Linked DNA regions of Homo sapiens: regions 2, 3, 4, 5 and 6 are each linked to region 1. Evidence: fine-mapped expression QTL. A gene starts in region 1. Each other region holds a variant in brackets. All regions are shown on one strand. Distances are between the middles of the regions. Region 1 holds the start of D2HGDH (D-2-hydroxyglutarate dehydrogenase). Region 2 overlaps D2HGDH (D-2-hydroxyglutarate dehydrogenase). Region 3 holds the start of LINC03100 (long intergenic non-protein coding RNA 3100). Region 4 overlaps D2HGDH (D-2-hydroxyglutarate dehydrogenase). Region 5 overlaps D2HGDH (D-2-hydroxyglutarate dehydrogenase). Region 6 holds the start of GAL3ST2 (galactose-3-O-sulfotransferase 2).

Region 1 (4,381 bases):
GCGAGCCTGACTGATGTCAGGTCCTCCACAAGAGGTGGAGGAGTACAGTCGTCTCTAAACTCCCCCGGGGAAAGGGAGACTCCCTTTTCCGGTCTGCTAAGTAGCGGGTGGTGTTTCTTGACACTTTTCGCTACCGCTAGACCACGGTCCGCTAGGTAACGGGTGTCTTCCCAGACGCTGGCGTCACCGCTAGACCAAGGAGCCCTCTGGTGGCCCTGTCTGGGCATAACAGAAGGCTCGCACTCTTCTGGTCACTCCTCACTATGTCCCCTCAGCTCCTATCTCTGTATGGCCTGGTTTTTCCTAGGTTATGATTGTAGAGCGAGGATTATTATAATATTGGAATAAAGAGTAATTGCTACCAACTAATGATTAATGATATTCATATATAATCATATCTAAGATCTATATCTGGTATAACTATTCTTATTTTATTATACTGGAACAGCTCGTGTCTTCGGTCTCTTGCCTCGGCACCTGGGTGGCTTGCCGCCCACAGTTGGTATCGAACTCCTGACCTCAGGTGATCCACCTGCCTCAGCCTCCCAAAGTGCTGGTATTATGGGCGTGAGCCACCGTGCCTGGTCAGAAAAATCAGTTATTTTAGGGGATGGTATGGGTGGTAATCTTTATGGGTTTTGAATCATTCCTAATCCCAGGGGTCCAAGATGCCACTGGCCTGCTAGTCAAAGGGAGGGCGTGTGGAGGTCAGGTGGTAAGGGGGTCCACAGACCTCATCTGTGGTCGTCTTTCCAGTTCCTGAATGTGTAATTGCAACAGTTACCCTTGACAATGGGCAAACTCCCACACTCATCTGCAGAGCAAGGGCCAGCCAGGTAGGAAGGGCCAGGTGGATGTCTCCTTTCCAGGGTTGTATGAATGATTCACCTGGGAAGAAGGTGAGTGGCCTCTGGGGATGTGGTTAAGGAGGACAGGAATGACTCCTTGCAACTGCTGCTCCAGAGCCTCATCACCAGGACAAATCCAGCTCGCCGGTTTTCTGTGTGACTACCAGGACCCATCTGCTGTCACGGGCGTAGCCTCCACCTCTTGCACAGCTCCGCAGTCCTGCCTCGGGCCAAGTGTGGTCTCCTGCTCTCTGCCCTCATCTGCTCAGAGATTGGCATCCTCTGCACCCGCTAGGGTTCTATGGAATTGGGTGAGCTGAAGTAACAAGTGCTTTGGGAGGCCGACGCGGGCGGATCGCTTGAGTCCAGGAGTTCGAGACCAGCCTGGGCAGCACATGAGACCTCATCTCTACAAAAATACAACAACAACAAAAAATTAGCCGGGTGTGGTGGTGCACGCCCGTAGTCCCAGCTACTTGGGTGGCCGAGGTGGGAGGATGGTTTGAGCTCGGGAGGCAGAGGTTGCAGTGAGCTGAGATCAACCCCAGAACTCCAGCCTGGGCAACAGAGCTAGACCCTGTCTCAAAAAAACACAAAACAAGTGCTGGCGATGCCTCAGGCAGGGGATCCCAGGCCGGGAGGCTCCTCGGGACAGCAGTTACTGCGTCAGGAGGGCAGGAGCTCCCCAGGTGTGCAAAGGGTTTGAGGGCACGGAGGGCTGAACAGGCAGAAGGGACAGGGAGGCAAGAAAACACCTGCAGGAGGCAGCTGCCCCCTAAGCTAAGGCTGGGGACCCAGGAGGGGTGGTCCGTGCAGGAGCTGGGGAGGCCGCTGGGGAAAGGGGCGCCCCCTGGGCTCGGCCTCGGAGGAGCGGGCCGGCCCCCAGGTCCCTCGGCCGAGCCCACGTCCCGGGCCTCGTTCTGGAGAACCCTCCAGCTGCTGCTTGGGCGTCTTGGGCTGCGCTCAGCCTAGTCCCTTCTCTACCTGGAGGGATGCGCCCGACAGCCGGCGCGCCGGAGGCCCTCAGGAAACGCAGGACGAGGCGGTGGCCGTCGAGCCTCCGGTGCCAGTCGGGGCGGGGCTTGGACGGCGGGGCGGGGACTGTAGGCGCGCAGGGCTGGGCCTGGAGGGCAGGCGGGGCGGGGCCCGTTAGGCGCGCGGGGCGGGGCTTCGGCCGCTGGGCGGAGCCGTCAATGCGCAGGCGCGGCGTCGCCCCGCCCACTCCGGCTCGGCGGCTCTGGGCCTGCGGCGGGCGCTGCGGGTTGGAGCTCGGGACGTGATCGTGGGTGCGTGCGCGCGGCCGCGCGGAGCGCTGGGCTGAGGGTCCCGGTCTGCGGTTCAGCCGCGGGTCGGGGTGGCGGGGCGCGATCTCGGGCGCCGTCAGCCAGTCGGTGCCTGTGGGGGGAGGGGGACGGCGCTGCAGCTCGTCACGTGACCGCGTGGAACACGCGCGCGCGTCCGCGGGATCCCCTCGGGGGGCGAGCTCGGAGGAACGGGGTCCTGGGCAAGGTCCCGGCGAGGCCGCCCCGAGCCTGCGCGTCGCTAAGTCCAGGCCTGCTGCGTGGGGCTTCGCGCGCTCGCGGGGTTGCGGCCCGGGCAGGGGGAGGGCCCGGGTGCTCGGAGCCTTCCCTTCGCTGCCCTCCTGCCCCCTCCCTGCTTCTGCAAGCGTGTTTCAATTTGTACAACGTGCATAAAACATGAAATTACCCTTGGCCACTTCCAGGCGCGCAGCCAGCGGCTCCCTGCCCTTCCCCTCCGGGCCCTGAGTACCGGCCCCCCACCAAGGAGGAGCCCGAGGTCTCCGTCCCGGCGGCGATGCTGCCCCGTCGGCCTCTGGCGTGGCCCGCGTGGCTGTTGCGGGGTGCTCCGGGAGCCGCGGGTTCTTGGGGTCGGCCGGTTGGCCCCCTGGCCCGCAGAGGCTGCTGCTCCGCCCCGGGGACCCCCGAGGTGCCGCTGACCCGGGAGCGCTACCCCGTGCGGCGCTTGCCGTTCTCCACGGTGTCTAAGCAGGACCTGGCCGCCTTTGAGCGCATCGTGCCCGGCGGGGTCGTCACGGACCCGGAAGCGCTGCAGGCTCCCAACGTGGACTGGTTGCGGACGCTGCGAGGTGGGTGAGGCTTGGGAAGCTGCGGCGTTTCCGCGTCCCTGCTCCGCTGCGCCTTCCCGTGGAGGCTTCAAAGCGGGCTGAGAACAACCTGGATGGGGGTGCCAGCCCCTGGCTGCGCTGAGAGGGGCGTGTGCACCGCCACAGGCTGCTGGAATGAATGACCACGAACGAGTCGCTTAGAACAACCCAAGTTTTGTTGTTGTTGTTGTTTTGTTTTTTCTTTTTTTTAAGACGGAGTCTCACTCTGTCGCCAGGCTGGAGTGCAGTCACGGAGTTTCACTCTGTCGCCAGGCCGGAGTGCAGTGGCGCGACGTCGGCTCACTGCCACCTCTGCCTCCCGGGTTCAAGCGATTTGCCTGCCTCAGCCTCCCTAGTAGCTGCGACTACAGGCGCCCGCCACCACGTTCCGCTAATTTTTGTATTTTTAGTAGAGACAGGGTTTCACCATGTTGGCCAGGATGGTCTCGATCTCTTGACCTCGTGATCCGTCCGCCTCGGCTTCCCAAATTGCTGGGATTACAGGCGTGAGCCACCCCGCCCTGCCAACAACCCAAGTTTGCCTGGCGCAGTGGCTCTGCCTGTAATCTCAGCTGCCCTGGAGGCTGAAGCCAGGAGTTCAAGACCAGCCTGGGCAACATAGCCAGAACCCCCGCCCCACTCACCTCTAAAAATAAAAATAAATAAATAAAAGTAGCCGGCCCAGGATTGAAAAAACAAAAAGTAAAAAAGTTACTCCAGCCCAGGAGTTCCAGTTTTAGTGGACTATGATCTCACCACTGCATTCCAGCCTGGGCAACAGAGCAAGACTACATCTCTAAAACAAAACAGAATTCCCCTCCCCACCAAACCCCACAAGTTTGTTCTCTAAGCTCTGGAGGCCAAAAGTGTGAAATCAGGGTATCACAGGGCTGCGCTCCCTCCAAAGCCTCCAGAGGAGGCTCCTTCCTGCCTCTTGTAGCTCTAGCTCCTGGTGGCCCCAGGTACCAAATTACTCCAGTCTCTGCCTCTGTTTTTCATACAGGTTTTTCTTCTCTGTGACTCTTCTCCAGTTGTCTTATAAAGACACTTCTCATTGGATTGAGGGCCCACCCTAATCCAGGATGATCGTATCTCAGTACTGTCAACTTAATTACATCTGCAAAGACCGTTTATCCGTTTTTTTTTTTTTTGGAGATGAAGTCTCACTCTTTTTGCCCAGGCTGGAGTGCAATGGTGCAATCTTGGCTCACTGCGACCTTCCCCTCCTGGGTGTAAGCAATTCAGCCTCCCAAGTAACTGGGATTACAGGTGCCCGCCACCATGCCCGGCTAATTTTTGTATTTTTAGTAGAGACGGGGTTTCACCATGTTGACCACGCTGGTCTCGAACTCCTGACTTCGGGTGATCCACTCACATTGGCCTCCCAAAGTGCTGAGATGACAGGCAT
Region 2 (4,547 bases), 23 kb after region 1:
CGGGTGTCGTTCCCATAGCCAGCCCTTGTCTCATCTCGTCTCATCCTCTAGATGCTGTGGGCCCTGAGGGAAAGGATCACAGAGGCGCTGAGCCGGGATGGCTACGTGTACAAGTACGACCTCTCCCTCCCTGTGGAGCGGCTCTACGACATCGTGACTGACCTGCGCGCCCGCCTCGGCCCGCACGCCAAGCACGTGGTGGGCTATGGCCACCTTGGTGAGCGGCGCCCCGGGGCCGCGGCCCTGTGTGTGCTGGGTGGTGGGCCCCACGGTCACCGTCACCCTGCCAGGCTTCGAGGCAGGGCAGTTTGACCATGGTCTCTGGCTTAGCATATCTCCCGTAGACACTGGCAGGACCACGGTGTCTGACAGGGAAGGGAAAATCCTAATCGTTGTCATGACTCGTTTTGAGTATTTTGGAAAAGACTGCCATCGTGCACTTGTAATGGCAGAGCGCATGGCTCAGCTTGTCAGAACGTTCTGGGATCTTCAGTGGCATGCAGGGTTGGAGGGCATCAGCCTTAACCCCGGAGTCCGGGATGCGGGTCTCAGGGGCTCCTCTCACAGGGCCCGGCCCCGAGGCCTTTGCAGTGCTTAGCCCCCAGCTGCTCTACCCCTTCAGATGGGAGGATTTCAAAACCACGTTCAGATCATCTTTTTTCTGCAGAAAAATCATGCTTTAACGTGTAAGCTATTAATTCATAGGAAGAAAATGTTTCAATCCTATCAGTTCTTTTTTTTGAGACGCAGTTTCACTCTTGTCACCCAGGCTGGAGTGCAGTGGCGCAATCTCGGCTCACTGCAACCTCCATCTTCTGGGTTCAAGCAATTCTCCTGCCCCAGCCTCCCGAGTCTCTGGGATTACAGGCGTCCACCACCAGGCCTGGCTAATTTTTGTATTTTTAGTAGAGACAGGGTTTTGCCATGTTGGCCAGGCTGGTCTTGAACTCCTGACCTCTGGTGATCTGCCCACTTCGGCCTCTCAAAGTGCTGGGATTACAGGAGTGAGCCACCGTGCCCAGCTGTTTTCCTGTCAGTTCTTTGGAGCCTTGGAGCGAGGTGTCTAAAAGGCCAGCTTATAGGGCAGGGGTGGGGGCAGTGCTGGGGGTGTGGAGCATGGCTTTGGGGCCTGACAGATATTCACTCTGGCTTCTTCCCTGGCCTGGTGGCACTGGAGTCACTGACCTGAAGCCTCCATCCATCTGCCAGTAAATGGGATTCAGGTGCCACCTCTGTGGTTACAGGAGGGTCTAGGGTTGTGTACGTGACGACAATAACACGTATTACTTACGAAGGTCCCGTGCTGTCCCAGGCATTATTCTAAGCACTTGATGTGGAGAAACTTCTCTGCACAACAGCTTTTAGGACTGGTGGTGTTGCTTCCCTTTTACACACATGTAAACAGGTTCAGAGAATTTAAGTAACTTGCCCAAAGTTGCCCAGCCTGTGGAGGGGTACATCTGGAGGATTTGACATAGGATGGATGGTAATCTTCTGTGATAGGAAGGCAGGACTCCTGAATGGGAAGGGGGTAAGGGCATGATGAGTGTGTCATCATCCAGAGAAGAGGGGTACGGGAGCCCCAGTATTTCAGAATATGGGAAGGGGGTAAGGGCATGATGAGTGTGTCATCATCCAGAGAAGAGGGGTACGGGAGCCCCAATATTTCAGAATATGGGAAGGGGTTAAGGGCATGATGAGTGTGTCATCATCCAGAGAAGAGGGGTACGGGATCCCCAATATTTCAGAATATGACCTCAAGCCAGGAGGAGGCTTCCTCCTCTCCAGGTAACTTCAGTCTCTCTTGGCCACAGATAAAGCAGACCATCTTGGTGAGAAATGGAATGAGCCCTCTGTTACTTTGTAAAAGCAAGAATGGGCCAGGCGCAGTGGTTCATGCCTGTAATCCCAGCACTTTGGGAGGCTGAGGCGGGTGGATCACCTGAGGTCAGGAGTTCGACACCAGCCCGGCCAAC[A/G]TGATGAAACCTCGCCTCTACTAAAAATACAAAAAATTAACTGGGCATGGTGGCAGGCACCTGTAATCCCAGCTACTCGGGAGGCTGAAGCAGGAGAATCACTTGAACCCAGGAGGCGGAGGTTGCAGTGAGCAGAGGTTGCACCATTGCACTCCAGCCTGGGTGACAAGAGTGAAACTCCATCTCAAAAAAAAAAAAAAAAGCAAGAATGAATGTTGAATTTTTAAAATGTGTTTCCTGCATCTGTCATGGTGACCGGGTGCTTGTCTGCCTGTAATCAGTGTGGTAAGTTACACTGATTGATCCCTCTGGAGTCAGATGAGTCTGTGTTTCTGGGGTAGGCCCAAGGTGGCCATGATCCTTTCTGTATCTTGCTGGATGAGTTTGTTTATGTTTGGTGTGGGATTTTGACAGGGGTCTTGGTGGATGATTCTGTTCCACGCTGTTCCTTTCTTCTGTCCATGCTGGATTTTGGTATCAAAATCATAACATGAATATTATGCAGAACTTGCCAGTGGAGCTGTTTGGGCCTGGAGGTTTTTTTGAGGGAGTATTTTAAAATTATAGCTCAGCTTCTTCAATAGCTTTAGGACTTTCAAGCTTTCCTTTCTTCTAGATTGGTATTGCTAATTTTTTCCCATATTGGCATAAAGTTGTTCGAATATTCTTTTGTTGTCTTTTTATGTAGCATTTGTGGGATGCCCCCACACCCTTTTTTTTGGTGGGGACAGGGTCTCGCTGTCACCCAGGCTGGAGTGCAGTGGCTCACCACAGCCTCGACCTTCTGGGATCAAGCAGGCCCGCCACCTCACACACACCAGCAGGCCTGGCTAACTAAAAAAAAATTTTTTTGTAGGCCCGGTGCAGTGGTTCACGCCTATAATCTCAGTACTTCAGGAAGCCAAGGCTGGAAGGATCACTGGAGTCCAGTAGTTCTAGACCAGCCTGGGCAACACAGTGACATCTGATCTATACCGCCCCCCGCCCCACAATATATGTGTGTGTGTGTGTGTGTGTGTGTGTGTGTGTGTGTGTGTGTAGAGCCAGACTCATGTAGAGCCAGTTGTGTGGCCGGACCGGTCTTGAACTCCGGGGCCTCAAGCAAATGCTCCCTCCTTGGCCTCTCAAAGCCAGAGATTACAGGCGTGAGGTACTGTGCCTGGCATTATTTGCTGCTTGCATTATCATTCCTTCTTTGACCGATGAGTTATGCAGAAGTGTGTTTCTTAATTTCCAAACGTGGTGGTTTTCTAGTTATTTTAAAAATTATTGATTTCTTTTTTATTGCATTATACCCAGGAAACTTCGTCCTTATCAGATCAGATTTTTGAAACTTGATCAGTGGCAGCTTATGATCAGCCTTCGTAACTGTGGAGTGCTTGAAAAGAATGTGCTCTCTGCAGTTGCTGGAATCAGTGTTTGTACAGATCCATCAGATAGAAGTATACGTCGCGTGTTCATTCTACATCCTGCTGACCTGCCACTCCCTGAGGGAGGTGTTAGAAATCTGCTGACAACAGACTAATCTGTTCCTCCTGTAGCTTTGCCAGTTCTGGAGACGTGTTCTTAGGGGCATAGGACATGAGGTTCGTCTCTTTGTTTTGGGAAACTGAATCTCCTAACGCGATGGACTCGCTCTTTATCTCCAGCATTGCCCGCTGCCTTGGTGTCTGCTTTGTTTATTACACAGTGATGCTAACTTTCTTTTATTTAGTGTTTGCCTGATGTGTTGTTTTTCCTCCGGTTAGCTTCAGCTTTTCCATCCTTAGTGATTTAGATGTGTTTCTTGTGGACGCCCCCGGACAGGTTTCTTGCGTACTTGTTTGCCGTCTTGAATGAGAGCGTTTGGCTGCTGAGCACGTGCTGTGGCCCACTGTTTGGATTTGTCTACTTCACCCTGCTCTTTGTCTCTCACTTCTTGTCTATTTTTTCCTCTGTTTTTTGCTCTTCTGGTTTATGTTCTTTGTCATTTAGCTTTTTGCCGTTTACTAACTGTTGGTGGTCGCCCTGGCACCACAGTGGACATTTCTAGCCCTCTGGGTTTGAGGTTAATCAGAGTCACTATCTTCCTCCCAAATAATGTGTGATGGTGAATTCTCTGCGTCCACTTGTCTGGGCCCTGGTACCCTCGTTTGGTCAAACTCCAGTTTGGATGTTTCTGTGAAGATATTTTTTATGTGTGATTAACATTTAAATCAGTAGACGTTGAGTACAGGAGATCTCCCACCACAGTGTGGGTGGGCCTTACCCAATCAGTCGAAGGACTTCGCCACAGCGTGGGTGGGCCTTACCCAGTCGAAGGCCTTCGCCACAGCATGGGTGGGCCTTACCCAATCAGTCGAAGGACTTCGCCACAGCGTGGGTGGGCCTTACCCAATCAGTCGAAGGCCTTTGCTACAGTGTGGGTGGGCCTTACCCAATCAGTCGAAGGACTTCGCCACAGCGTGGGTGGGCCTTACCCAATCAGTCGAAGGCCTTTGCTACAGTGTGGGTGGGCCTTACCCAATCAGTCGAAGGACTTCGCCACAGCGTGGGTGGGCCTTACCCAATCAGTCGAAGGCCTTTGCTACA
Region 3 (4,934 bases), 350 kb after region 1:
CCTCCTCCTTGTACCCATGACACCGTCGTGGTGCCTGGCTGCTGTCAGCACAGAGCATTAGCTCTGAGACACCTCCTCCTTGTACCCATGACACCGTCGTGGTGCCTGGCTGCTGTCAGCACAGAGCATTAGCTCTGAGACACCTCCTCCTTGTACCCATGGCACCGTCGTGGTGCCTGGCTGCTGTCAGCACAGAGCATTAGCTCTGAGACACCTCCTCCTTGTACCCATGACACCGTCGTGGTGCCTGGCTGCTGTCAGCACAGAGCATTAGCTCTGAGACACCTCCTCCTTGTACCCATGACACCGTCGTGGTGCCTGGCTGCTGTCAGCACAGAGCATTAGCTCTGAGACACCTCCTCCTTGTACCCATGGCACCGTCATGGTGCCTGGCTGCTGTCAGCACAGAGCATTAGCTCTGAGACACCTCCTCCTTGTACCCATGACACCGTCGTGGTGCCTGGCTGCTGTCAGCACAGAGCATTAGCTCTGAGACACCTCCTCCTTGTACCCATGGCACCGTCGTGGTGCCTGGCTGCTGTCAGCACAGAGCATTAGCTCTGAGACACCTCCTCCTTGTACCCATGACACCGTCGTGGTGCCTGGCTGCTGCATTAGCTCTGAGACACTGCTGTGTTTCCCTCCTAGTTCTGCATCAGGTGGTACTGTTTTGTTTTGGTGGCTTGGTTCATTTTTTCTTATTGCAGTATTATCACTGCATAGAAAGCAGAAGTGGTCTTCCCATATTGTGTAAAATCCCCATTAAACATACACCACATGCTTCAGAGCGGCAGGAACAGGAAGAAGGATGGGATTCCCCGTGCCCGAAGGTATACCAAGTCTACATTGTCCTGAGAGTTAGGGACTACAAACACTTGTCCGTGCAGCATTTGGGAAGGTCAGAGGAGACGACTGTGTGGTGTGCATTGGAGAAGCGTGGGGCCCCTGTGCTCACCACCACCCTAAGCCCCTGTGAGGCAGGGGGCACCTGGTGCACTGTGACCAGCACTCTCCCAGCTTCCTGCCAGGAGGAGCCAGCTCCTTAGGTTCTGTAGGGTTTGACTTAAAGAAAATTTTAAAACGTGATTTTTCAATAAGTTGGTTGCCAAAAAATCTCTGTGGTTAAGGAGGCACCTCCCTCCTGGTCACTACTTCCCCCTGCCGAGCCTTCTGCCTGGGCAACTGCACCACAATCTCCAGCTGCACCATGTGTTTTGAAAAGCGTTTCTCCCCGCCCCTCTGGGGTTTTTCTCCTCCTCCAGTGGCGAAATTTCAGAGGGCACTGAGTGGGTTACTCTTCACAAGCACAGAGCTAAGCCCAGTCCTGGTAGAAAGCACACACAAAGAAGACCCAAGACCATGAATATGCTGACCTAAGTTGGACAGAACTGCTTCATGGCTTCCTGCTGTTACTCCATGGGTTTCTGATCCTGTTCTGTAGGTTTCTGCTGTTACTCTGAGTTCCTGCTATTACTCTGTGGGTTCCTGCTGTTACTCTGTAGGCTCTGCTATTACACTATGGGTTCTGATGTTACTCTGTGAATTCCTGCTGTTACTCTGTGGGCTCTGATGTTACACTGTGGGTCCTGTTTTTACTCTGTGGGTTCTGATATTACTCTGTGGACTCTGATGTTACTCTGTGGGTTCCTGCTATTTCTCTGTGTGTCCTGCTGTTACTCTCTGGGCTCTTGTGTTACTCTGTGGGTTCCGACATTACTCTGTGGGCTCTGCTGTTACTCTGTGGGTTCTGACGTTACTTTGTGGGCTCTGCTGTTACTCTGTGGGCTCTGATGTTACACTGTGGGTTCTGCTGTTACTCTGTGAATTCCTGCTGTTACTCTGTGGATCTCTCTGTGGTTACTCTCTGAATTCCTGCTCTTATTCTGTGGACTTCTTTTGTTGCTTTGTGAGTTTCTGCAGTTAGTTTACCTCTTTACCATCCAGCCAGGAATTCTTTCACTAGGAATTGTGTGGATGCTGGCCAATTGGGCTAAATTTAATATTACTATGTCCCCTATTGTGGTGGTGGGGTCTTGGCTTGGCAATTTCTACTAGTATTCCATATGCAGTTAATCTTGACACATCAGTGAAAGAAAAATAAAATCTCAGGCCTCCAAACTTACTATGCCAAAGGGAAAAGTTAATATTGGCAACACACACACACACACGCACACACACACACACACACACATACATGCCTTCTTTTTGTTCCCAAAAGCTTACTTTATCTTATGTGAAATGTAGATCTACTGAGTATGAGACAGATGTATAACCCTCCCCCATACCTTTCTTTTCACATGTGAAATGTAGATTTGCTGTACTCTAATCAGAGCCTCACAAAAATGTGACCACTTGCCTCATAGCCTACTCTCCCCTCTTTCCCCTCCTACCGGCGCTTTTCCCTTAAATATTTGGAAAAAAGTACAGGCCAAAAATCCTACTGTAACCTGTGTTTCTTTTTCCCCAGGCAAATCCACAATTTTGGCAAAATAAACCTCTATATCAGTTGTGATCTGCCTCAGACACTTTTTGGTTTACACAACAATCCAATCATAGCGATTTATTTGGAAATA[T/C]ACCTTCACAAGTTAAATCAAACCACAGCACTACTGGGCATTATTTGTAATGGCAAACTATTGCAAACAATCTAAAGCCCATCATAGACATCATAGAAACTATTCTAATAAATTGATACATTTATATAATGGAATAATCCGCAACCTTGAAGGGAATGAAGGAAGGAATAAAGAGAGAGGGTAAGGAAGAAAAGAAAGGAGAGAGGGAAGGAGGGACAGACAGGTGTTTAAATTGGGGATGTGCAAGCAATATTGCCTGCTTCATTGCCTTCACATTATCTAAAAGCATGTGGTCAAGAAACACTATTACAATAAGCACATCAGAAATAACTTCTAAAATTACTTTTCCAAAATATGAATCCATACTATACACTTCCTGTAATGTGCACCAAATGTAGATGCACACATTTTAACAAGGAAAAGACTAATACTCATATTTGCTTGCTACACACCAGACACTGTTTTAAATGTTTTGCACACGTTAACTCATCTGTTCTTACAGAAATCCTGTAGCGTGCACCGCCACCTCCATGTTTCTAGGAGGAAACTGAGGCACGGGGGCTGCGGCTCCTGGACGCACCTGGCCTTCTCGGCCTGCCTCTCTCCCTCCAGCCGCCCCACATTCTTTTTTCCTAATTGGAAAAAACTATTCACGCTGCTCCTCCAGGGCATTTCAACCTTCTAGAAAGACTCGACAAGATTCGAAACTGTTTATAAAGAGAACGTGCTTGTGCCTGAATGCTGAGTGTGAGCGCGCAGTGATGCCCTAGAGTGCAGTCATCCCGGGCTTGGCGCCCAGCGGGTGGAAATACGGCCGCAGGGTGGAAATGCGGCGGCGGGGCTGCCCAGGCTCCTGTGGGACCCGCGCGGCGCGGGCACGCACATTCTCAGGGACGCGCGTCCTCAGGCCACGAGAACACCTGAAGGCCCCGGCCAGCGTCCTCCAGTGAAGACCCGGACCGGCGTCGTCACCCGCCGCGCAGGCCTAAATCTCAGGTCTTCACCGTCATCTCCCAGCGATCGCAGGGATCTCAGGCACTGACCGCGCCCGTCCCTGCGCCCCCCCGCCCCCGCCCCCCCGCGCCCCCGCGCCCCCGCGCCCCCGCGCCCCCACACCTCCACGCCCGGCACTCTGGGCGCGCGCGGACGGCGGGGCAGTGCCTACTACGCAGGCGCACGCTGCGGGCGTCAGGACCCGGCAGCAACACTGCCACGCGAATCCGCGCCGGCCAATCAGCATGGCCAGGGGCGGGGCTTCCCTGAGGCGCGCCGAGAGGCGGTGGCCCACTTCCGGCAATAATCGCCTGGTCGCCGTCAGGTGCCGGCCCAGGTGGCAGGCGCGCCCGTTGGGCACTGGGGGACGCGGGCGCGTCAGGTGAAGACTGGGGGCTGCAGGCGCGCTAGGTAGGTACGGGGTGCCGCGGGCGCGTCAGGTGAAGACTGGGCGCCGCAGGCGCCTTAGGTGAAGATTGGGGATCGCGGGCGCGTCAGGTGGGGACGATGGGCCACGGGCGAGTCAGGTGAAGACCGGGGGCGGCGGGCGCGTCAGGGGAAGACATGGGGTCGCGGGCGCGTCAGGTGGGGACCGGGGGTCTCGGGCGCGTCAGGTGGGGACGGGGTTGTCGCGGGCGCGTCAGGTGGGGACGGGGTTGTCGCGGGCGCGTCAGATGGGGACGGGATTGCCGCGTGCGCGTCTGCTGAGGTCTGGGTCCGCGGGCGCGTCAGGAAGGGACGATGGGCCGCGGGCGCGTCAGGTGGGGTCTGGGGGCGGCCGGCGGGTGTGGAGGGTTCATTCAGGGAGCTGCGGGCGAGTCAGGTGGGCACGGGGACCGCCCACAGGTGCATCGCGTGTCCTCAGCCGCTTCCCCTGCCCACCTTCTGCGACCCCTTCCCGCCCCCACCCTCCTGGGCCGTCTTGCAGGCCCGAGCTTGTGTCCGCCTCGCTGGGCAAGGTGTTTCGGGGACGACTCCTGCCGGCGTTTGCCCTCCGGGCTCGGCCCTTGCCTCTTCGCCGGTGGGCACCTGCTAGGTGTGACCCCTCATTCCTCCAGGCCACTCTGCCCCGTCTGCTGCTTACCTTTTTTTCCCTACTCCTGGTCTGTGGCTCTGGCTCTGTCTCTGTCTCCTCCCTTAATTTCTTTCCATGCTTATTTTTCTTGCAGCAGACACTAATTTTGCATCCTTCCCCTCACAGTAAGCTCAATTTGACCTTTTTCTCAATTAGATTCCACCTCTGTCCTTGGGTCTATTCAAACTCATTTTGAAGACTAAAGAATCTAGAGAACCATTTCTTCCCTTATGAAGCTGTCTCTTGCTGCCTCCAAATCCTTACCATCCGGCCCTAATCAAAAAAGACGTTTA
Region 4 (4,934 bases), 30 kb after region 1:
GCTGGGATTACAGGCGTGTGCCACCACACCCGGCTAATTTTTGCATTTTTAGTAGAGATGGGGTTTCACCATATTGGCCAGGCTGGTCTCGAACTCCTGACCTCGTGATCCACCCGCCTCAGTCTCCCAAAGTGCTGAGATTGCAGGTGTGAGCCACCGCGCCCAGCCTGCTTTTTCCTTTTTGCTGCTTTCAGCTCCTTCCATTGTCTTTGGGGTTCTGCGGTTTCACTCTGGTTTGGCCGGGAGTCGGCCAGATGAGTGTTTGTTTACCTGCCTGTTGGCCGGGTGAGTGTTTACCTGCCTGGCACTTCTTGGGCTTTGGGGTCTTGCTGGCTTTAGAAATTCCTCAGCCACCAGAGCCTCTTCAAACACCGTTTCTCCCCTTCCTCTGTTCTCCTCTTGGAACTCAGTCCAAGCCCCCTTGTTTCTTATCGGCTGCTGCCAGGGTCCCGCCTCTCAGGTTTGGATGCTATTTGCAGTGTCTCCAGCTTGGCGTTCTCTGCCGTGTGTGATCGGCCGTCAGATCTGTCTGCTAAGGTCCACAGGCCAGCCATGATGCATTTCATCTCCGGAAGATTGGCGTGGATATTTAAAAATTGCTTGGTCAGATTTTTTGGTTTTATATTTTTGTCTCTTATTTCTTTACACATGACACGTTTGTGTTCTGTGTCTGGAAATGACAGCGTCTGAGGTGTTTGTGGGTCTGATTCTGACCTTAGCCGTGGTGGTTTGTCTTCTTGTGTGTGTGATTTTTGGCATGAGCTCATATTCGTTAGATTTTTATCTGTAGGAATTATTTGAGGCCTGCAGGGGAGGTGGTTTGCTTCTGCAGTGGGTGGGGAGGGTGAGGGCCTGGGGCCCCGCCCGGAACCTCTTTAATCTCCACATTCTCAGCCTTTGGGACCCGAGGCAGCGTGAGTTCCGGGTGCAGGCCGCCGTTGCTCGGGAATACAGTTGGGTGTTGCTGAATGATGGGGATGCGTCCTGAGAAATGTGTCATTAGGTGGTTTCGTTTTGTGTGAGCATCACGGAGGGCACTCACACCCAGATGGGACAGCCTCTTCCACACCAAGGCTGTGTGGTGTAGCCATTGCCCCTAGGTGACAAACCACAGCTGTCATCCACTTAATGCCGGAAGCAGTTGTGACATAATGCTGAGTATGTGCCTGAACACAAAAGCTAATCCTAGAAAAGGGACCGTAAAAGTATGGTATAAAAGGTAAAAATGCCACACCTGCCTGGGGTGCCCATCACGAGTGGGTCTCGCGGGACTGGAGGTTGCTCTGGCGAGGCAGTGGGTGAGCGTGAGGGGTTGCGAAGGCCTAGGAGATGACCGTACTCTACTCTAGACTTTATAAATGCTGCACACTGAGGCCACACTAAACTGATATTAACAAGTAATTGTGCTACAACATGGTGACATCGTCATTAAGGTGATGGCAGTTTTTCAGCTCCATTTTAATGTTATGGGGCCAGCATCATCTCTGTGGTCCGGGGTTGGGTGAAACGTTGTTATGAAGCGTGACTGTATTCACATACTTTGTGGACGCCAGGCACGTGGCTCACACCTGTAATCTCAGCGCTTTGGGAAGCTGAGGTGGGAGGACTGCTTGAGGTCAGGAGTTCAAGACCAGCCTGGGCAACATGGTGAGACCGGCCCCCCACCCCCGACCACCCGCCGTTTCTACAAAAAAAATAATCAGCCAGGCATGGTGGTACATGCCTGCAGTCCCAGCTACTCAGGAGGCAGAGGTGGGAGGACTGACTGAGCACAGGAGGTTGAAGTGTGAGCCACGATCACTCTACTGCCCTCCGGCCTGGGTGACAGAGGGAGACCCTGTCTCAAAAAAACAAAACCAAATGAACATATTCTGTGGATGTGGTTTTTCTTCTTTCACAACCAGTCCTTCCTGGGCAAGTCCCCGGGCAGGGGATGTGTTCAGCCCTCTCTGGCCTGAGCACGCATCCGTGGGGACTGTGGGAGGGGCGGGGACTGGGGGGCGACGGGGACTGTGGGAGGGGTCCCTGCTGTACTCCCTGCCTGGGGTTTGTTCTCGTAGGGGTGGAGAAATAGTTTTCTGTCTACCCTTTCTAGTTCCCAGCTGGGATGGACCCTGCAGCTACAGACAGATTAACAGGAGAAATAACAGAGGCTCATGACGTGCATGTTTCACGTCTACTTGGGAGTGGCCAGGGAATGAGTGATTCTCAAAGAGCTGGCTGTGAATTCAGGCCCACGTGGCGTCTTCAACAAACAGTCAAATTTTAGGGATGTCACATGACAGGACATGGACTATGAGTCTCCAGGTGGCATCTCGGAGGAGGCAGGGAGCTGGCAGAGGACGGCAGGGCCTGAAGCTGCCTCGACCTTTGTCGGTTCTGGTGGAGGGAGGGGCCTTGCCCTTGTCAGTCATTCCTGTGCCGCTCTGAGGCAGGACCTGAGT[T/C]GGGGGAGCTTTCCTTGGATCTGCCGCTTCTCAGTTGCCTTTGTGGGAAAACAGCCCTCACCCCAACATGGCACAGTTTGGGGTGGTGCGTCCTGGTTTGCCTCTGGAGCTCCTCCTCGGTGTGCAGCTCTGCGTTAAAAGCCGCTGTCCTTGTCTGGGCAGCCCTTGAGCTGGTTTCTGGCTCCCTCTCCTGCTGGCCCGGAGGTGGGGCGGGGTCCTCACTTCACTCTGACCCTGGCTGTCCCCAGCCTCTTCTCTGAGCCGTCGCCTTCTTGACCTCTGAGGTCAGAAGAGGAGGTTGTGCGTGGGGCGGGCCAGGGCCAGGGTGTGCTTGGAGAGCTGCTGCCCTGGGGGCTCAGTGTGGGCTAAGTGGACCAGAGAGGAGGCAGCTGGGAGCCAGGACTTTGTCTGCAGTGGGCACTGGCTGGGCAGCTCCAGGGGCGACACCCATGGGGGTGGGGGCGTCCAGATAGAGCTGCCCTGGGCGCCACTGCGGACCCCTCCATCCGACCAGGTGCTGGGGATACAGACTGGAAGACGGTCTGGACTCTTCCAGGTCAGGAGGGAGGCAGTGGCAGGCCATGCGGTAACTCAGGTGGCCGCTCTCTGCCTGGGGAGATGGGAGCCCCGGGCTGAGGGAGTAGGAAGAGGGGGGAGAACTTGGGGAGATGGGAGCCCCGGGCTGAGGGAGTAGGAAGAGGGGGGAGAACTTGGGGAGATGGGAGCCCCGGGCTGAGGGAGTAGGAAGAGGGGGGAGAACTTGGGGAGATGGGAGCCCCGGGCTGAGGGAGTAGGAAGAGGGGGGAGAACTTGGGGAGATGGGAGCCCCGGGCTGAGGGATTAGGAAGAGGGGGGAGAAGTTGGGGAGATGGGAGCCCCGGGCTGAGGGAGTAGGAAGAGGGGGGAGAAGTTGGGGAGATGGGAGCCCCGGGCTGAGGGAGTAGGAAGAGGGGGGAGAAGTTGGGGAGATGGGAGCCCCGGGCTGAGGGAGTAGGAAGAGGGGGGAGAAGTTGGGGAGATGGGAGCCCCGGGCTGAGGGAGTAGGAAGAGGGGGGAGAAGTTGGGGAGATGGGAGCCCCGGGCTGAGGGAGTAGGAAGAGGGGGGAGAAGTTGGGGAGATGGGAGCCCCGGGCTGAGGGAGTAGGAAGAGGGGGGAGAAGGTGGGGAGATGGGAGCCCCGGGCTGAGGGAGTAGGAAGAGGGGGGAGAAGTTGGGGAGATGGGAGCCCCGGGCTGAGGGAGTAGGAAGAGGGGGGAGAAGTTGGGGAGATGGGAGCCCCGGGCTGAGGGAGTAGGAAGAGGGGGGAGAAGTTGGGGAGATGGGAGCCCCGGGCTGAGGGAGTAGGAAGAGGGGGGAGAAGTTGGGGAGATGGGAGCCCCGGGCTGAGGGAGTAGGAAGAGGGGGGAGAACTTGGGGAGATGGGAGCCCCGGGCTGAGTGAGTAGGAAGAGGGGGGAGAACTTGGGGAGATGGGAGCCCCGGGCTGAGGGAGTAGGAAGAGGGGGGAGAAGTTGGGGAGATGGGAGCCCCGGGCTGAGGGAGTAGGAAGAGGGGGGAGAAGTTGGGGAGATGGGAGCCCCGGGCTGAGGGAGTAGGAAGAGGGGGGAGAAGTTGGGGAGATGGGAGCCCCGGGCTGAGGGAGTAGGAAGAGGGGGGAGAAGTTGGGGAGATGGGAGCCCCGGGCTGAGGGAGTAGGAAGAGGGGGGAGAAGGTGGGGAGATGGGAGCCCCGGGCTGAGGGAGTAGGAAGAGGGGGGAGAACTTGGGGAGATGGGAGCCCCGGGCTGAGGGAGTAGGAAGAGGGGGGAGAACTTGGGGAGATGGGAGCCCCGGGCTGAGGGAGTAGGAAGAGGGGGGAGAAGTTGGGGAGATGGGAGCCCCGGGCTGAGGGAGTAGGAAGAGGGGGGAGAAGTTGGGGAGATGGGAGCCCCGGGCTGAGGGAGTAGGAAGAGGGGGGAGAAGTTGGGGAGATGGGAGCCCCGGGCTGAGGGAGTAGGAAGAGGGGGGAGAAGTTGGGGAGATGGGAGCCCCGGGCTGAGGGAGTAGGAAGAGGGGGGAGAAGTTGGGGAGATGGGAGCCCCGGGCTGAGGGAGTAGGAAGAGGGGGGAGAACTTGGGGAGATGGGAGCCCCGGGCTGAGGGAGTAGGAAGAGGGGGGAGAACTTGGGGAGATGGGAGCCCCGGGCTGAGGGAGTAGGAAGAGGGGGGAGAACTTGGGGAGATGGGAGCCCCGGGCTGAGGGAGTAGGAAGAGGGGGGAGAAGTTGGGGAGATGGGAGCCCCGGGCTGAGGGAGTAGGAAGAGGGGGGAGAAGTTGGGGAGATGGGAGCCCCGGGCTGAGGGAGTAGGAAGAGGGGGGAGAAGTTGGGGAGATGGGAGCCCCGGGCTGAGGGAGTAGGAAGAGGGGGGAGAAGTTGGGGAGATGGGAGCCCCGGGCTGAGGGAGTAGGAAGAGGGGGGAGAAGTTGGGGAGATGGGAGCCCCGGGCTGAGGGA
Region 5 (4,362 bases), 36 kb after region 1:
GCCGGGGTGGCGGCAGCTTTGCCCACGTGGAAGCGGGGTGGGTCTCACTTGCGTGGTGGCCCCTGGCCCCATCTTGCCTGCTGCGGCCTGGGGAGCAGGCGCTGGGTGGTGGTTCTGCCTGCTTGCTGCTCGTTCCCCGGGCATGCGTGGGCAGCGGGGGGCATGCGTGGGCAGCAGGGGGCGTGGGCAGCGGGGGCACGGGCAGGACCACGTGGGCCGTGATCGTGGGTTGCCGAGAGGACCTGAGCGCTGCGGCTCTGCTGAATGGAGCCGGGTCCCTCAGGCCGTGGACGCCCTCGGGAGGGGGGTGACTGTGGCTTGTGTCTGGACAGGAATGTGTCATTTCCCACATCTTCTAGAGGGCTGCCAGCTGGGAAGACAGTTATCAGGGCAAGCTGTGCTCTGAGTTTCGGGTTCTGCTCCTACAAAGAACGTGCGGTGCTGCGGGCGAGGGCCCCGGCACGGACAAGGGCCACTGCAGAGTGTGTTTCTGCTCGTCAGCTGCCCTGGGCAGCGGATGGGCTGGGCGATGCAGCTGGATGCACATCTCATTCTGTCATGAATGTCCAGTAAAAATCTGAATTGGTTGCAACCTTCTCTTTGCTTCTGTTACTGGAAAATCATCTTTCAGAGCCCATTGTGAAGGGCCTGTGCATCCCATTCCCACAGCCCCTGGACCACTGGGGCCATAGTGTGGCCGGGCCTGACACTACTGTGACTGTCACTGTGCCTCCTGTCCCCATGCACTGTCTGGTGGCAGCTGAGCTCCCACCGGCTGCACAGGGCAGGCCTGGACATGGAACGGGCAACTCATAACCCTTGGTGGCCCTGGAGGCCCTCAGCAGCTGGGCCTGACCGAGGTGTATCCACGGGCCCCTCCTGTCCCTGTGGGTGTCGAGGACCTCGGATCCTGCTCAGAGGGGGAAACATACCTCTGACCCGCTGCCCTGCAGAGCCCGCCTGCCTAGCCAGGGCCTCTGTGTGGACAGGCCACGTCCTCCTGGTGGAGGTCCTCGGGGGATGGGTGGGGGCCTTGGTCCAGCATGATTTTTTTTTTTTGAGACAGGATCTCACTCTGTCACCCAGGCTGGAGTGCAGGGGTATAGTCACAGCTCAGTGCAGCCTCCACCTCCTGGGCTCAAGTGATCCTCCCACCTCAGCCTCCTGAGTAGCTGGGAGTACAGGTGTGAGCCATCATGCCCAGATAATTTTTTTTTTTTTTTTTGAGACAGAGTCTTGTTCTGTCACCCAGGCTGGAGTGCAGTGGTGCGATCTTGGCTCACTGCAAGTTCCGCCTCCCGGGTTCACGCCATTCTCCTTCCTCAGCCTCCCGAGTAACTGGGACTACAGGTGTCCACCACCGTGCCCGGCTAATTTTTTGTATTTTTAGTAGAGATGGGGTTTCACCTTCTTAGCCAGGATGGTCTTGATCTCCTGACCTCATGATCTGCCCGCCTCGGCCTCCCAAAGTGCTGGGATCACAGGCATGAGCCACCGCACCCGGCCATGCCCAGATAATTTTTAAATTTTTTTTTTTGTAGAGATGAGGTGTCCCTGTGTTGCCCAGGCTGGTCTTGAACTCCTGGCCTCCAGCGGCCTCCCACCTCAGCCTCCCAAAGTGCTGGGATTACAGGCCCGAGCCTCTGCGTCCAGCCGATCCAGCATGCTTTGAAGGCACAAATCAGGGGCACTTTCATGCTGGCCCAGCAGAGCCAGTGGGTCCCGCCCAATGCCTGGGCTACTTCCTGCTGTGCCTGGGGGCACCTGGGGCTGTCCTGCCTCACTGGCCAAGGCCCGGCTCTGTCCCTGGGCTCTGGCCACTGTTCTGCCATCCCAGGCTGGGTACCCATGGGCAGCCCGACAGTATCTGTTGCACAGAGCAGACCCCAGGCCCCATGGGTGCCTGACACGAAGCCCCACAGCGTGTGCCCGC[G/A]TCCCCCGAGGTCAGCCGGCGGCTCCTGCCCTTCCCTCTGACCTCTGGTTGGGGGCCGGCCATTTTTCTGCTTGTTCCTCTAGCTCTGCTACTGGGCACATGGTCCGTGCTGGGTAGGCTGCAGGCCAGGGTGAGTTGCTGACCCGCTGACCCTGGCTGTGCACCTGCCCTCCTGCCCTGGGTGGCTGCTGCTGGCCCAGGGGTGACTTGGGGGCTTTCAAGCTTCTGCCCGTGCTGGCCGCACGACCCCACGTCCCACCCTGGGTAGGGACTTGTGATTCTCAGAGCTGGGGTCCGTTGCTTTCCTAAGGACCTCCGGCCCTGGTCGTGGTCTAAATGCTCACTCCTGTTGTTGGAGAGGCCAGCCGGGTGACAGGGAAAAGCCCAGAGCCCCGGGCTTCCCGTGAGGATCTGGGCTCAGCATGGGCTGTGGGGCTGCAGAGGCCTGGCCTTGCCTGCTGAGGGACACCCGCTGGTAGTGCCTGCAGAGGGGGGAGGAGGAATTCCTCCCCCTAGTGCCCTCTGGACCCTGGGAGAGCAAGACCTCTGCATCCACACTGCCTTCCGCTGGGCCTCTGGGGACTGGGGAAGCGGACACAGTCCAGGACTGTTGGAGGAGGAAGAGGCTGCGGCTGCTCTTCCCTGGGGGTCCGGCTCCAGGAGGCTGCGGTGACCGTTGGGCCGGAGCAGGCCAGTGCCGGGCACGTCCTGCCCATGACAGCCCTGCTGCCAGCCGTGGGCACTTGTTCCTGGAGCTCCGTGGCTGGGTCCTGCCGTCTCCGCTGCTGCCCTGCCCTGCCATGTTCACCTCCAGTTTATCCAGCAATGGGGAGAGGGGCTTCTTAGATCCCCCTCAGGCTTTTCTTTTGTGCCTTTAGATATGTGAAATACAACACAGCCAGGCAAAGCAGGTGCCGGTGAGACACCTGGCTGGCCCGAGCTGGCCCGAAGAACTGCCTGTCTGCCATGAGGAAAACCCACACTGCGTGGTGGCTGGGAGGCCAGGAGTTTTCACAAGCCGGAAACCTGTTAGATTTCTCTACCTGACAGCAGGAAAATCTGATGAGACCCGATCGCATCCAGGCAGGCCGTGTTCTCGCAGCCCGCGGGTTAACACAGACTCCGAGTGACTCCGACGCAGGAGAACGCGGCGAATCTGCGTGAGGCAGGCCACCAGCCTTGGTGCCCCGGAGACAGCTCCCCCAACGGCCATGTGACGGCGTTGAGTGTCCGTGGTCAGGTGTGTGTAAGAGACGCGCAGAGAATTCCACGCCGTCCCAACCTCCCAGCCGGAGGCTCTGACGAGGCCTGCAGCCACGCGGAAAGAGCAATGAGGAGCACGTGTGTGGGGAGGAAGGCGGGTTCTGGCCCCGTTCCTTCCGCAGCAGCTCCGGCCTGGCGGGTTCTGACGGAATTCTGCAGCGGCTCCAGCCAGGGTCGTCGGGGCGGGGTGGGTGCTCAGGGGCGGCCTTTGTGTTCGGATTAGAAGCTGGTGATTGTCACATTAAGACCTCTAAGCTGCTGCAATCTGAGAAGATGTTACACAACCAGGGCCCCTGAGCTGAGGCCAAGGAGGGGGCCAGGAGAGTGGTGGGAGGGGCCCCAGGCAGGGCCAGAGCTGCCTGTGTACAGCAGGGGAGAGGGGAGAAGGGGTGGGCCGGGTGGTCTCAGCCCCAGGGAGAGTGGAGTGCCCGCCCCTCCCCTCCCCCAGGACGGCTGGCCCCTGGGAGAGCCCCTGGGGGAGCCAGTTTCCTGTAAGCAGAAGGGCAAGTGGTTGGGACCCAGAGGTGTCTGACAGTTGTGGACTTAGAGCCCAGAGGAAGGGTTTGGGGTTTGGGGCTCCTGGGACGCCGCAGGCCCCTGAGGACGTCCATCAGGATCCTGGCAGTGTGGAGGTGTAGGGTCCAGCCCTACGGGGCTTAGCGGGTGTTTTCCCTGTGTGTGGAGATGAGGGATTGTAATAAATAAAGACACAAGATAAAGAGAGAAAGAGAAAGCAGCTGGGCTCTGGGGACCACTACCATCAAGACGCGGGGACCAGTAGTGGTCCCAGAGGGCTAGGCCCACTGATATTTATTGCATACAAGACAAGGGGGCAGGGTAAGGAGGGTGAATCTTCTCAGTGATTGACAAGGTGAAGTAAGTCATGTGATTACAGGATAGGGGGCCCTTCCCTTTTAGGTAGCCGAAGCAGAGACGGAAGGCAGCAAACGTCAGCATTTTCTTCTCTGCACTTATAAGAAAGATCAAAGACTTTAAGACTTTCACTATTTGTTTTACCGCTATCTGCTACGAACTTCAAAGAGGAACCAGGAGTACAGGAGGAGTATGAAATGCAACAAAGAGTAATATTAAAAGCTAATGATTAATAATGTTTATAATAATGATTGATAATTGTCCATGATCATCTCTATATCTAATTTGTATTA
Region 6 (4,934 bases), 41 kb after region 1:
GCTCGGGGTTTAGGTCCTGTTCTGCTGCCTCTGAGCACCTGTGACCTGAAAAGGCCCTACCCTCGGCCTGGGTCCCTTGGGGTGCCACTGACCTTCTGGGACCCTGAAGCTGCCTGTGTGGTAGGCGTGTCCACCCCCACACCCACCCAAACGATGCAGAGGAGTGAAAAATGATTCCTCGAGGAGCTGGTCCAGGGCCGGGCGCGGTGGCTCACACCTGGAATCCCAGCACTTTGAGAGGCCGAGGTGGGAGGATTGCTTGAGCCCAGGAGTTTGAGAAGAGCTTGGGCACACATGGTGAGACTCTGCCTCTACAAAAAATTAAACATAGCCAGGCGTGGTGGCATGCACCTAGAGTTCCAGCTACAGGAGGCTCTTACAGGGGAGGAGGGACAAGCCTGAGCTCAGGAGGTCGAGGCTGTGGGGAGCCCCACGTGACTACACCACTGCACTCCAGCCTGGGTGACAGAGCGAGACCCTCTCTGGAAAAATAAAAAGGAGCTGGTCAGGGAGGCCGAGAGCAAATAGCTGCTAGAATGTGGCGCTGCCTGGGACGGGGAGGGCTGGGGGCCCTTGGGGTGGACCAGGAGCCTGAGTTGAGGGTTAGGGGCAGGTGGAGGGGCTGGGAAGCTCGGGGCTGTCTTAGGAGAGCCCTCCTGACACCTAGGCCCTGGGCCGGGTTCCTCCTGGTGGAACATCACAGACCTGAGCCCTCCCACTCACTTTTCCTTGGACCCCACAGGCAAGGAGCTGGGGCGGCTGTCTGCTCCCAGGCTGAGGCCCCGGGACGGGCCCCTCCTCGCTTTGTTAGCCGGTTAGACCCAGGGCGGGCGCAAGCCCTTGGCAGTGCTCCCCAGCACTGCCCCTTGGACCTCAGGGGTGTGGGGAGGACAGACCAGGGCAGGACCCAGGAGGCCACAAGGGCTGGTGGGGGTCATGGTCCTGGCAGCCCCAGTCAAAGGCTCTGCCCTCCTGCACCCACCCCCAGAGGGGGATCCTCTCGAGGGAGCATGGGCCCTGTCTCCCCACCTGCCCTTCTGGGAGATCAAGAGTTGCTGTGAAGTTTCTAGAACAGTGCCCGGCCTGGCGGACGGGCACGGAGGTGCCTCCTGGGTGTGCCCGGGTGCGGCCTGACAGGGCTGGGGTCCTGTTGGGTTGTGGGCAGGTCCTCAGACGGCCTCCTGGCTCCTGCCTCGCCCCTCCCCACAGGCCCTGTGCCAGCGGCTGTGCAAACAGAGGCCAGGAAGCGAGGTGATGCTCCCTTTGTTTCTGGCAGAGTGTGTGGCACCTGGAGCTACCTTCCGGGTTCCATGGCCCTGGGGCCCTGGGGCCCTGGGGACAGGGAGGGAATGGGATGCACAGCGGCCAGGGGTGTTCAGCGTCACCGGTGGAAGGGGTGAAACCTGTTCTTCCTGGTGGTGAGGGTTTGCCCCTTGACTCCGGAAAGCAGAGACCGTGGAGCAGGGCCCACTTCAAAGCACAGTGCTGGGGGCTGTGGCCTCGGCCCTCTGTGGACGTGGGCGGATGGGTGGCCCTGGACTGGTGAAGGACTGGCCGGGAGTTCTGTAGGGCCCCCACCTCCTGCCAGCGCCCAGCCCACAGTCGACCACTGCCTGCCCGGGGCAGGAGACTTCCTTCCTGCAGCCCCGGACCCGGGATCTGAGACCTAGAAGCTGACTCCATCCTTTGACTGCTCTGTTCTGAGCTAGGCCACCCCTGCCCCTGCCCCGAGGTGGCCCTGGGCTTGCCCGCCCGCCTGCAGTGTCGGCTGAAGAGGGTAACGTGCGTGCGCCCCGGCTGCTCCCGGCTGCTCCCGGCTGCTCCCCGGCTGCTCCCCGCTGCTCCCGGCTGCTCCCCGGCTGCTCCCCGGCTGCTCCCCGCTGCTCCCGGCTGCTCTCGGCTGCTCCCGGCTGCTCCCCAGCTGCTCCCCACCGGCCTTGGGTCTGGTGGGTGTGGCCCTCCTAGTGGGACCAGGCCACACACTGGAGCACATGGGCACGGCAATGCCAATGCCGATGGAGGCGGGTTCCTGGGCATGTGGACCTGTCCCTTACTCGAAGCAGCTGAGGGGCCTCCAGCCAGCCCCGTCCGCACCCCAGGGGTTAGGGCTCTGCCATGGGGGCGTGGGCATCTGCTCTGACAAACAACGTGTGCATTTGATTGGTGTTCCTGAGTCACCGTGGACCAGGCAGGCTGCCAGAGCGGCTGATTCTTAGCGGGGAGCTGGGGCCGGGCAGACACCCTGACTCCCTGGGGCTCCCAGCAGGGCCCCACTGGCAACAGGCAGCCTCCTCCCTCTGGCCGCCGGGCCTCCGTCCCTTTCCCAGCCTGGGGCTGGGACCACCGCTCCACACCACACTGCACTGCCCTTGTCTGCCCCAGCAGGGGGTGAAGGTGGCTGGTGGCTGAGGACCCCCTGCCCAGGCCCACACTTCTTGCTCAGGCCCCATAAGTCACTTGGGATCTGGAGAGCTGGGGACTTTGACCTGGGAGGGAGGCATCTGGTCGTGACCCTCAGGCGTGTGTAGGGAGGTGCCTGGCCGTGACCCTCAGGCGTGTGTCCCTGGCAGGTTGCTCTCCACCGGCCCCACCGTTTGTAACACATGGCTCGGCCAAGGTGATTCTGGGGTAAGGACCCATGAGGCGCCATCTTCTTTGTTCCTAGGCTGAGCCTGTGGTGCCCTGGGCAGGGTGGGTGGAGGAAGCAGCAGGGAGGCTCCTTAATGGTGGAGTGAACACCCACACGGATGTCTCTGGATAGTGGAATGCGGAGGATGCAGGGCACGCCGGTGGAGAGCTGCCCAGCCGTGCCAGCAAGGCCCCGGCATCCCTCCCACCTGCCGTTAGCACCGGGAGCTGCTCTGCTGGCCCCTCCCACAGACTCGGGCTCTGGAGGTCTACAGAGCAGCTGGGAGGGTGATGCCTAGGCGGGGGCGGAGATGCCAGGCCCCTGGGCTGCAGGTGGAGGTAAATGGGGAAGGGAGGC[T/C]GGGGGTCTCTGGGCCTTTCGCCAGCAGCCGCCCAGCCCAGGGTCTCTGATGCCAGGGAGGTCCATGTGTGCTCGGCCCCTCCTCTGAGCCCCTCAGCCCAGCCTTGTTTCTGCCTCCATGGCTATGGGGCCTGCACCCATCCGAGCCAGGCACTGGCTAGGGCAGGGAGGCTGCCTTGGGCTGGGGCCAGTCCCGGAATCCAGGCTCAGCTGGCACCGACAGGGAGGGGTTGTGGGAAGGTGACCAGCCGTGTGGAGAGCTTGGCGTCGGAGGGCATGGTGGGCACCAGCGCTGGTGGGATGTGGCGAGGGTGGTGGTGACTCATGGCGCGTGGCCCGTAGCTCTGAGGAGCATTTGCGTTTTCCTGTGGATTCACTGTAGCGCCTGGTCACAATGTTGCAGCATTTCCCTGGCTGCTTGTCTCGGAATTAATATCTATTTCCTGAAAAGAGAAATGAACTTTCTTGCAGTAAAATCTAAACAAATATTTATATTTATTTTCCACCTCCATGTCCTGTTTCAAACTTATTGTCCAGCCCAAGATTTTAAAAAGTCAGATTTTCTTTTGGTGTGAAGCAGGCTCAGGAGGAGGAGGAGGGGGAGGAAGAAGAGGAGGACGAGGAGGGGGAGGAAGCTGGGAATTGGGCTGAGCTTTCCTCGCTCATCCTTGCAGTGGCCACAGGGCCCTCTGCCCTCTCGTCTGCGTCAGGTCCTGAGTTCTGAGTCCAGAAGCCGTCGCTGTGCTGTTGGAGCCCACCAAGCCCGTCCCTTGTGGGGACAGCTCCCTCCAAGCCCCCCGGGGGGATGGACACTGAGGGTGGGGCAGGGGAGCAGGGGTAGGCCCCAGGCAGGTCCTCCCAGGGCCTGGGGAACACAGGGGCCCATCGAGGGCTCCCCAGACTCCCTCAGCCAGTTCTTCCCGAGAACAGAACAGTTAAAACCAAGCCCTCCGATGGAGGTGCGGGGAGAGGGCGTGGCTCCCGTCCCAGGAGGCAGGTGAGCTTCTGGGGATTCCAGTTCACCTGCCCCACAGCCGCACCCTGCCTGTGCCTGCACCCTGGGGAGCCCAGAGCCGGCAGGGGCCGAGGCGGTGGGACCTCGGGGGAGCTCAAGCCTCGACTGTCCCCTCGCTGGAGGCCAGAGGCCAAGATGATGTCCATGCTGGGCGGCTTGCAGAGGTAAGGGGGGCAGTTGGACCCCCCAGGTGGACAAAGCGCTTCATCTGTGGCTATTCTGAGAGACGGACAGGAGTGGGTTTTGTTTGTCTTTCGAAGGAAGTGACTTGGATTTGGAGGCTGTTCCTACTCAGGCTTCCCTGAATTCACCTGTCTTGGCTTCGTTTCGGAAGTAGGGGGCCCCTCCTGCCCAGGCCTGGTGCTGCTTCTGGGTGTTTGGGGGTTCTGGGATGTGGGGCCCAGTGAGAAAGCTGCCCCCCAACACTGTGGCGTGGAGACGCTCGAGTGTCCGCGTGACGGCTGGGGAGGGTGAGACCTGCTGGGCTTGGGACCTCCCAGCCTCGGTCTGCGGCTCAGGCCCATGGCTGGGCCGTGTTGGTGGGAGTGCCAGGCGCTTGCTGGAGCGTTGGTCATGCGTGCGCTTCAGGATGCTCCCGGGGCTCTGGGTGGTGACGGGGAGGCTGGGCTCTGCTGTGCTGTCTCCCTTCTGTAAACAGAGGGGAGGTGGATTTCTTCCCAGTTAGGTTTGGAGGGGTGGTGGGTGTGGCTAAGGATGCCTTGCGTTTTCCTTCTCCTGCTCGCCATCCTGTTTGGGGTGATTCCAGGGCAGTTTGAAGCCGTCCCTGCGCTGGCAGGTCCCTGCCTCCCCGGGGCGTGTGCCGCCATGAATTCAGTTACCTTCCTTTAAGGGGTGACTTAAGACCAGCTGCCAGGACACTGGCTGAGGACACCCCGTCACAGGGCTGAGAGGTGTGGGGCCGGCTGCCTGGCC

The links.
Region 2: its variant is fine-mapped to the expression of D2HGDH in whole blood (TOPMed, PIP above 0.99). The same link has a PIP of 0.9 or more in NK cells, T cells, Th1 cells and Th1/17 cells.
Region 3: its variant is fine-mapped to the expression of D2HGDH in fibroblasts (GTEx, PIP 0.97).
Region 4: its variant is fine-mapped to the expression of D2HGDH in whole blood (INTERVAL, PIP above 0.99).
Region 5: its variant is fine-mapped to the expression of D2HGDH in whole blood (TOPMed, PIP above 0.99).
Region 6: its variant is fine-mapped to the expression of D2HGDH in whole blood (TOPMed, PIP above 0.99).

What each region holds. Positions count from the first base shown.
Region 1 is chr2:241,732,562-241,736,942 of GRCh38, forward strand. It overlaps D2HGDH (D-2-hydroxyglutarate dehydrogenase), which reads left to right and starts at 2,069. Exons shown (of 10, transcript NM_152783.5): 1 at 2,069-2,134; 2 at 2,572-2,955. The coding sequence starts at 2,664. RefSeq lists silencers at 1,596-1,645, 1,686-2,735, 2,746-2,855 and an enhancer at 2,896-3,135.
Region 2 is chr2:241,755,798-241,760,344 of GRCh38, forward strand. D2HGDH (D-2-hydroxyglutarate dehydrogenase) reads left to right here. Exons shown (of 10, transcript NM_152783.5): 9 at 52-217. Among named protein-coding and RNA genes, the nearest start is that of GAL3ST2, 19 kb to the right of the region's middle. The variant A/G (reference allele first, on the strand shown) is at 1,977.
Region 3 is chr2:242,084,825-242,089,758 of GRCh38, forward strand. It overlaps LINC03100 (long intergenic non-protein coding RNA 3100), which reads right to left and starts at 3,741. Exons shown (of 1, transcript NR_186294.1): 1 at 2,527-3,741. It overlaps LINC01881 (long intergenic non-protein coding RNA 1881), which reads left to right and starts at 3,809. Exons shown (of 7, transcript NR_130702.1): 1 at 3,809-3,977. The variant T/C (reference allele first, on the strand shown) is at 2,574.
Region 4 is chr2:241,762,202-241,767,135 of GRCh38, forward strand. All of the region lies in intron 9 of D2HGDH (D-2-hydroxyglutarate dehydrogenase), which reads left to right. Among named protein-coding and RNA genes, the nearest start is that of GAL3ST2, 12 kb to the right of the region's middle. RefSeq lists an enhancer at 2,083-2,696. The variant T/C (reference allele first, on the strand shown) is at 2,445.
Region 5 is chr2:241,768,220-241,772,581 of GRCh38, forward strand. It overlaps D2HGDH (D-2-hydroxyglutarate dehydrogenase), which reads left to right. Exons shown (of 10, transcript NM_152783.5): 10 at 1-592. Among named protein-coding and RNA genes, the nearest start is that of GAL3ST2, 6.4 kb to the right of the region's middle. RefSeq lists an enhancer at 2,544-3,456. The variant G/A (reference allele first, on the strand shown) is at 1,934.
Region 6 is chr2:241,772,820-241,777,753 of GRCh38, forward strand. It overlaps GAL3ST2 (galactose-3-O-sulfotransferase 2), which reads left to right and starts at 4,003. Exons shown (of 4, transcript NM_022134.3): 1 at 4,003-4,165. The coding sequence starts at 4,137. RefSeq lists enhancers at 2,195-2,815, 4,057-4,677, 4,678-4,934. The variant T/C (reference allele first, on the strand shown) is at 2,987.